Homo sapiens: one gene and its partner. The protein of the gene in region 2 purifies or fractionates together with the protein of the main gene of each other region. This does not show direct contact. Each region holds a gene or a part of one and is shown on either strand. Other genes may lie near its edges.

Evidence for each region. The genes of interacting proteins can lie anywhere in the genome.
Region 1: the proteins of RAB27A (region 2) and ECD purify together in Homo sapiens (affinity purification with mass spectrometry; one large-scale study listed by BioGRID and IntAct). This does not show direct contact.

What each region holds. Positions count from the first base shown.
Region 1 is NC_000010.11:73,133,363-73,137,116, reverse strand, and holds the end of ECD (protein ecdysoneless homolog), read left to right. Parts: intron 1-198; coding exon 199-413; intron 414-2,303; coding exon 2,304-2,534; 3' UTR 2,535-3,449; downstream 3,450-3,754. UniProt on the Homo sapiens protein: Regulator of p53/TP53 stability and function. Inhibits MDM2-mediated degradation of p53/TP53 possibly by cooperating in part with TXNIP. May be involved transcriptional regulation. In vitro has intrinsic transactivation activity enhanced by EP300.
Region 2 is NC_000015.10:55,230,760-55,234,413, reverse strand, and holds part of RAB27A (ras-related protein Rab-27A), read left to right. Parts: intron 1-3,654. UniProt on the Homo sapiens protein: Small GTPase which cycles between active GTP-bound and inactive GDP-bound states. In its active state, binds to a variety of effector proteins to regulate homeostasis of late endocytic pathway, including endosomal positioning, maturation and secretion.

The DNA.
Region 1 (3,754 bases), on a different chromosome or scaffold from region 2:
AACATTAAATGCACACATATCTGCCAGCATTACCATTTGTAGAAGGGATTTTTGTGAAGTAGACTGACTGTGTGTATTAGTCTTTTTCTGTGGGTAACATTCTAATTATTTTGAGATGTGTAGTAACTAAATAATAATAATAATAATAATAATAATAATAATTACTAAGTGGCTCTTTCTTTCTTGGGATCTGTGTAGGGCCAAGGCCTAATGAGTCAGATTCTGATGATCTGGATGATGAAGACTTTGAATGTTTAGATAGTGATGATGACTTGGACTTTGAAACACACGAACCTGGCGAAGAGGCTTCCCTGAAAGGAACACTTGATAATCTCAAGTCATACATGGCCCAGATGGACCAGGAACTAGCACACACCTGCATCAGCAAAAGTTTCACCACTAGGAACCAAGTGGTATGTGTGTTTTTAACCTCTTTCTCTTTCTGAGTCTAGTATGTCAGATAGCTAAAACCATATTTTATCATAGTTTTTCTTTTTTTGGTGTGTGAGATTTGAAATAAATAAGAATGTTAATTGTTTTCCTAACTCTGGTAGGATAAAGGATCATAGACTTAATTTTCCAAAACATAAGCTTCATTATATTACTTATTCTACGTTATCTATCAGGATTTAAAATAAAAAGTCATATAATATGCTCAAATTAGAATGCGATTGTACACTACTACTTCTTAAATACATTTTTTTTCAAAAGTAGTTTAAAAAAACTACAGCTTAAATGGATTTTAAAAAAGAGAGGGCACATGTTCTCAAGACCTTTTGAGACTATGCCTTGGGCCACAGTGGATTAAAACAAAATAACATAAGTAAATAAACAGGATCTTAAACATTCAAATAACTTTCCAGTTTTAACAGTTTATTTTGTATTTTTCCCTAATTTAGAGCCAAATTTAGGATTCACCTTCCGTTTATGTTTTCATCCTAGTTTTTAATGCCACCACTGTCTAATCCTAAACAGAGGTATTATGGAAAGAGCAAGAACCCTGGAGTCTTATGGGTTAGGGTTTGAAGTCTAGCTCAGCTGTCCACTGTGAATGTATCTATAAACCAGTAATCCTCATATCATAAAATTAACATGAGAACCAAATTAGACAGCAGTAAAACCTACAATAGGCCTTTAATTAATGTTAATTCTCCTTGCTTTGATCATCTAAACCACTTTTAAAACTATAGTCACTTCCAGAATTGTCAAAATCTAGTAGAAACCATACATTAGATTTATCTAAAGCAGTATTTCTTAAATTTTAATGCGAATATAAACCAAAAGATCATGTTACAACATAGATTCTGATTAAGTAGGCCTGGGATGAAGCTTGAGATTTTCCTTTTTTTTATTATTATTTTGTTTTATTTTATTATTATTATTATTATTTTATTTGAGATGGAAGTCTCCCTCTGTCACCCAGGCTGGAGTACAGTGGCACGATCTTGGCTCACTGCACCCTCTGCCTCCTGGGTTTAAGCAATTCTCCTGCCTCAGCCTCCCAAGTAGCTGGGACTACAGGTGCGCACCACCGTGCCTGGCTAATTTTTGTATATTTAGTAGAGACAGGGTTTCACCATGTTGGCCAGGCTAGTCTCTGGAGCTCCTGACCTCAAGTGATCCACCCACCTCAGCCTCCCAAAGTGCTGGGATTACAGGCATGAGCGACCACTCCCAGCTGAGTTTTTCCATTTCTAATAAGCCCCAAGCGATGGAGACTCTGCTGCTCCATGGACAATGCTTTGGGTAGCAAGGACATAAAAGTCTATCGAGCTGTAATCTTTCAAATCCTTTCCCCAGCTTGTGGAATCAGAGGCCCAACTAACAATTTAGAATCTTTGTGGTTGGAACCACAAAGCCTTGTGTTTTTACTTTTAAGCTTTTTCACTGGGGGGAAAGAAAGGAACACTCGCTTCTTTCATTTTGAAGAAAATTTACATTATTATTTCATTTAATATTCACTTTTATGTTTGTTTCTTTTAAGACTCTTAGACAAGTTATAAATGTACCTTCTTAATTCTATTAGCCCTTGAGCTATTTCAAAATAGACATGCAATTTATTCGATTTGCAGGAATCTTTCCTGGAGAGAAATGTGTTATAACCTTTAGAACCAAGTTTTATTATGTGTGCTAGGCCATATAACTTGTAGACTTCATTTTCAGTTTATATCACCAAGGATAAGAAGTTTCCTTTTTAATTTGGAATGCAAATTTACATTGTGGCTTAGTTATCTTTTTATTGTAACCACCATGCAACCTAATGATACATTAGCCCATAATTTTCTTTTCCCTCTATGAATAAGGAACCTGTATCCCAGACTACCGATAACAATTCAGATGAGGAAGATTCTGGTACGGGAGAATCTGTTATGGCACCAGTAGATGTAGACCTGAACCTGGTTTCAAATATATTGGAATCCTATAGCTCCCAAGCTGGACTGGCAGGACCTGCTTCCAATCTTTTACAAAGCATGGGAGTGCAGCTGCCTGACAACACCGATCACAGACCAACAAGTAAGCCAACAAAAAATTAACCAGCACATTTAGCTTCTCTTTTTTCTTTTTAAATAAATATTGAATATGATTCTGTTCATTTCTAGTTTAGATTACTCATTTAGTAAAAATGTTTCTTCATTACAAGTTTTACAGATTGACTTCTCCATGAGCCCCAAATGTGGCCCTCTTGGCACAAGTCTTTGTGATCTCAGCTGTGGGTTATACACAGGTTTTGAACTCGGCAGGGTAGAATCTAGCCCCTAGACAACCTTGAGATGAAATTCACACACTTCATGCTAAAGACATACCCTACCACAATATACCCTTGGAGTAATTCTAAATATTTAAATTTCTCCCTTACTGCTATTCATCCTCAGATCAAAATTTCAAGTTGACAAATTTGGATTTGAAAACTCATTCACTTTTTCAATTTTTTTAATGAGGCATAACATGCATATGGTTAAGTGCACAAATCTTAAGTGTACAGTCAGTGAATTTTTGCATGTATGTATGTACCTGAAGCAAGATATAGAACTTATTTACTTGTAAATAACAGCTATATTGATATGTCACATACCAAAAAATTTACCCTTTAAATTATACAATTCAGTGGTTTTTAGTATATTTACAAAATTGTGCAACCATCCCTACCATCTAATTCTAGAATATTAGAAACCCCATACTCACTAATAGTCTCTCATTCCCTTCTACTCCCAGCCCCTAGAAACCACTAGTCTACTTTCTGTCTCTATGGATTTGCCTATTTTGGATATTTCATACCTGATACTGTACTTAATTGTTTTAATTAATTAATTGGTTTGATATTTAATATAACTGATATATCTTTTGCTAAGATGAAATGTTTATTTCTTAAAATGATGCTCATATTCCTCCTAAAATAAATCAAGTATTATCTATATATCATAAAATTCACCATTAAAAGCAAAAAAAAAGTCTTCTTTACAGACAGCTCCATATACTGACCATGTTTTTATAATCTAGGTCTCTGGATTCTTCTTTATTATTGTATGCAGCAGAGAGATGCCTTTACTATATCTTACCCTATCCAAGTAAAAACAATGGAAATAGTTTCATACTGTTCCCTCTCCAGTGACCAAGGGAGGAATTAGGAGAATGGTGTAGTAGAGTTCTCATCTGAGAACTTACTATCACGAACTAATAAAAACTGAATATGGCCGGGCATGGTGGTGGGCGCCTATAATCCCAGCTACTTGGGAGGCTGAGGCAGGAGAATAGC
Region 2 (3,654 bases):
TATTTTTAATGGCATTTCTCCTAATAAAGTCTCAGCAGTTCCACATGGAACACTAACTGGCAGAACTTATCACTGCTGCCAGGAGGGTGAGGTTGGAGTAGGAGTGGGGAATGCCAGTAGTGAATGTGATGTTCTGCAGAATGTTGAAGGGAGAAACTTTTATTTATTTATTTTTTAAGGACTTTGAGACTGAAAGTTATTCTAGTGTTGGAGGGGAAGGCAGAAGGTCATGGTGTCACAGTTGCAGATGAGGAAAGATGGCTTTCTCCTTAGACTACATTTCTTGTTGAAAAATCCATTGTTGGCCTGAAGCAGGTAAACCAGTTGTCAGGAAATTAATGACAAAGGTCCTTTAATGGATCATATTCTGTCAGGGGGAAAGGTCCCTGGCTTTTAAGACAGAAGAACATTCCCTTTTGCCCATTCTAGTATTTTATTCTACTACCAGAGAGGCTTATAGAGATTAAGACCCACTGAATAACAGTAGGGCCCTAATGAAATTTTTAGTATTGACGTGTAGTTGATAGAATCTACATATATGTATGTGATTATTTTTGTTGGTTACTTATTGTATAACTTAAAAAATAGATTTGTTGAGATATAATTCACAAAAAAAGGAAATCCATCCATCTAAAGTATAAAATTCGGTGGTTTTTAATATATTCGGAGTTGTGTGGCCATCACAGCCATTCAATTTTAGAATAGTTTCATCACTTTAAAAAGAAACCTCATACCTATTAGCAGGCATTCCTCTTTCTACCTCCCCTTAGCCACCATGAATTTTCTATCAATGGCTTCTGCACACACCATATAAATGGAATAATATATGGCCTTTTGTGTCTGGCTTCTTACATTCAGCCTGATGTTTTCAAGGATCTTCCATGTTGTAGCATGTATCAGGACTTCATTACTTATTATAGCTACATAATATTCTATTGTATTGATACACCATTTTGTTTATCCATTTGTCTGTTGATAGATACTGTTGTTTCTTTTTCTATTTTCTAGTGCATCATTTTAATTCCCTTTTTTGTTATATGTTTTTGAGTTCTTTTTTAAAAATTCCCTTGGGGATTACAATTATCTTAATTTTTCACAATCTAATTTTGATTAATAGCAACTTAATTTTAATACTGTGTAAAACTTTGCTCTTATGTGGCTCTGTTTTCTCCCATATTTTTGTGCCATTATTGCTATACGAATGACATCTTTCTACATTGTGTGCCATCATCAATACAGCTTTACAATTATTGCTGTATGCAGTTAATTTTTTTTTCTTTTTTCTTTTTGAGACAGGGTCTCTCTCTGTTGCTCAGACTGGAGTGCAGTGGTGAGATCTCAGCTCACCGCAACCTCTGTCTCCCAGGTTCAAGTGATTCTCCTGCCTCAGTCTCCCAAGTAGCTAGGATTACAGGCACCCGCCACCACACCCGGCTAATTGTTTATATTTTTAGTAGTAATGGGGTTTTGCCATGTTGGCCAGGCTGGTCTCGAACTCCTGGCCTCAAGTGATCCACCCATCTTAGCCTCCCAAAGTGCTGAGGGATTACAGGCATGAGCTATCACTCCCAGCCTGCAGTTAAATTTTAATCTAGTGGAGGAAAAGGGCTACAAAGAAAAACCACGTTTATACTGTTTTTTATATTTACTATGCAGTTACATTTTTACTGGTGCTTATTATTTCTTTGTGTGGATTTAAGTTACTGTCTAGTTTCCTTTCAGCTTAGTCTTGAGAGTTGTCTGTAGTATTTCTTGTAGGATAGGTCTGCTAGAGATGACTTTTCTCAGTTTTGTCTTAATTTATCCTTTAATTTTAGAGGACCGCTATGTTACTGATTTTTAAGTTCTTTGAATATATTTATAATTCCTGATGTAAAGTCTTTGTCTAATAAGTTTAACATCTGGGCCTCCTCAGGAATAATTTCTATTCGTTGTTTTTTTCCTGCGCATGAGCCATACTTTCCTGTTTCTTTGTGTGTCTTATACGTTTTGCTGAAAACTGGACATTTAAAATAATGTGTCTATTCTAGAAACTCAGATTCTTTCCCCTACCTGGGTTTCTTGTTTTTACTGCATATTTATTTATTTTTGTCGTTGCTGTTTGTTTAATTATGTTTCTGGGATAATTCTGCAAAATCTGTATTCTTTGTATGCAGCTACTGAAGTCTCTGCTCAGTCAACTTAGTGGACAGCTAATGAGTGGAGAGAGTTTATTAAATTCCTTGAACTAATAAGTCTCTTAGCTTTTTCTGAGAGTCTCTGTGTGTTTGTTGGGGTATGTGTTTAATACTACTGCAGGCAGTTTACAACTCTGCCTTAGCTTTTATTTTCTGCCTGAGAAGAACCTCAAAGTCAGTCAGAAGTGAGAGATTAGGACCTTTTTAGATCTTTCCTGGGCATTTGTAGAGCCCTGCCCATGAACATGGCCTTTTAGGTTCCAAGGAATATTTGGGAGCATTATAGAAATCTCATTTCCTATTTTTTTCTTTAAATTTTTTTTTTGTTGTTGTTGTTAGACTTTTGTTAGCCCTAACTGGTATTGCTACCTCTGGTAGCTGTGATGTTAAATAATTACTGCTGATAGTTTTCAACAAATGCCCTTGGGATAGGGCTGTTCTCAAAGAGCAAGCTTTGAGTGAGGTCAAAGAAAGACAAAGCTGGGGCATGGAGCTTTCCAAGGGGCTTCCTGACAATTTTTCTCAGTATGGGACTTTTAGGGAGCTCCAAACCTGTTGTTCCTCTGCTGTCCACAGTGGTGGCTAGGCTGATGTTTTCACAACAACCACATTTGTGCACATGGTTTTTAAGTCTTCTAAAAGCTTGAGTGAGGGGGATGGGAATAGGGCAAGGTAAAAAACACCTCAAAGCTTACTGTTTTTACTGATATTCGGCTGTTTTTCTTGAATAAATGCTCCTTGGAATGTTGCAAGTCTTTGTTAATTCCTAGAGTACTGAAAAAGTTGATTTGGACAATTTTTACCACTGTTTTTGTTGCTATTGTGGAGGAAGAAATTTTTGATGGTCCGTTCTCTGCTGTTCTAGGAGTGTTGTCTATAAAATTCTTTTAAGAGCACTTTTAAAATTTGGGATGGGACAAGGGAAAATTGTTCTACCAAAAATACATCTGCACTCAAATGTTTATTGCAGCACTATTCACAATAGCAAAGTCATGGAACTAACCCTAGGTGCTTATCAGTGGTGGATTGGATAGAGAAAATGTGGTACATATACATCATAGAATACTATGCAGCCATAAAAAAGTGAAATTATGTCTTTTGCAGCAACATGGATAGAGCTGGGGACCATTATCCTCAGTGAATTAATGCAGAAACAGAAAATCAAATGCCACATGCATTCTCACTTATAAGTGGGAACTAAACAATGGGTACGCATGGACATAAAGACAGAAACAGTAGACACTAGGGACTCCAAAAGGGGGAAGGGAGTGGGAGAGGGGCTGAAAAACTACTTATTGGGTACTACATTCACTGTTTGGGTGATGAATTCAATAGATGCTCAAACCCCAGCATTATGCAATCTATCTACGTAACAAGCCTGCACATGTACCCCCTGGTTAAACAAACAAAAAAGATGAGATTGGGAAAAGCCATAGAAAAGTAATATTTCCTGAAACTAGTGACCCAAGAGAACTTT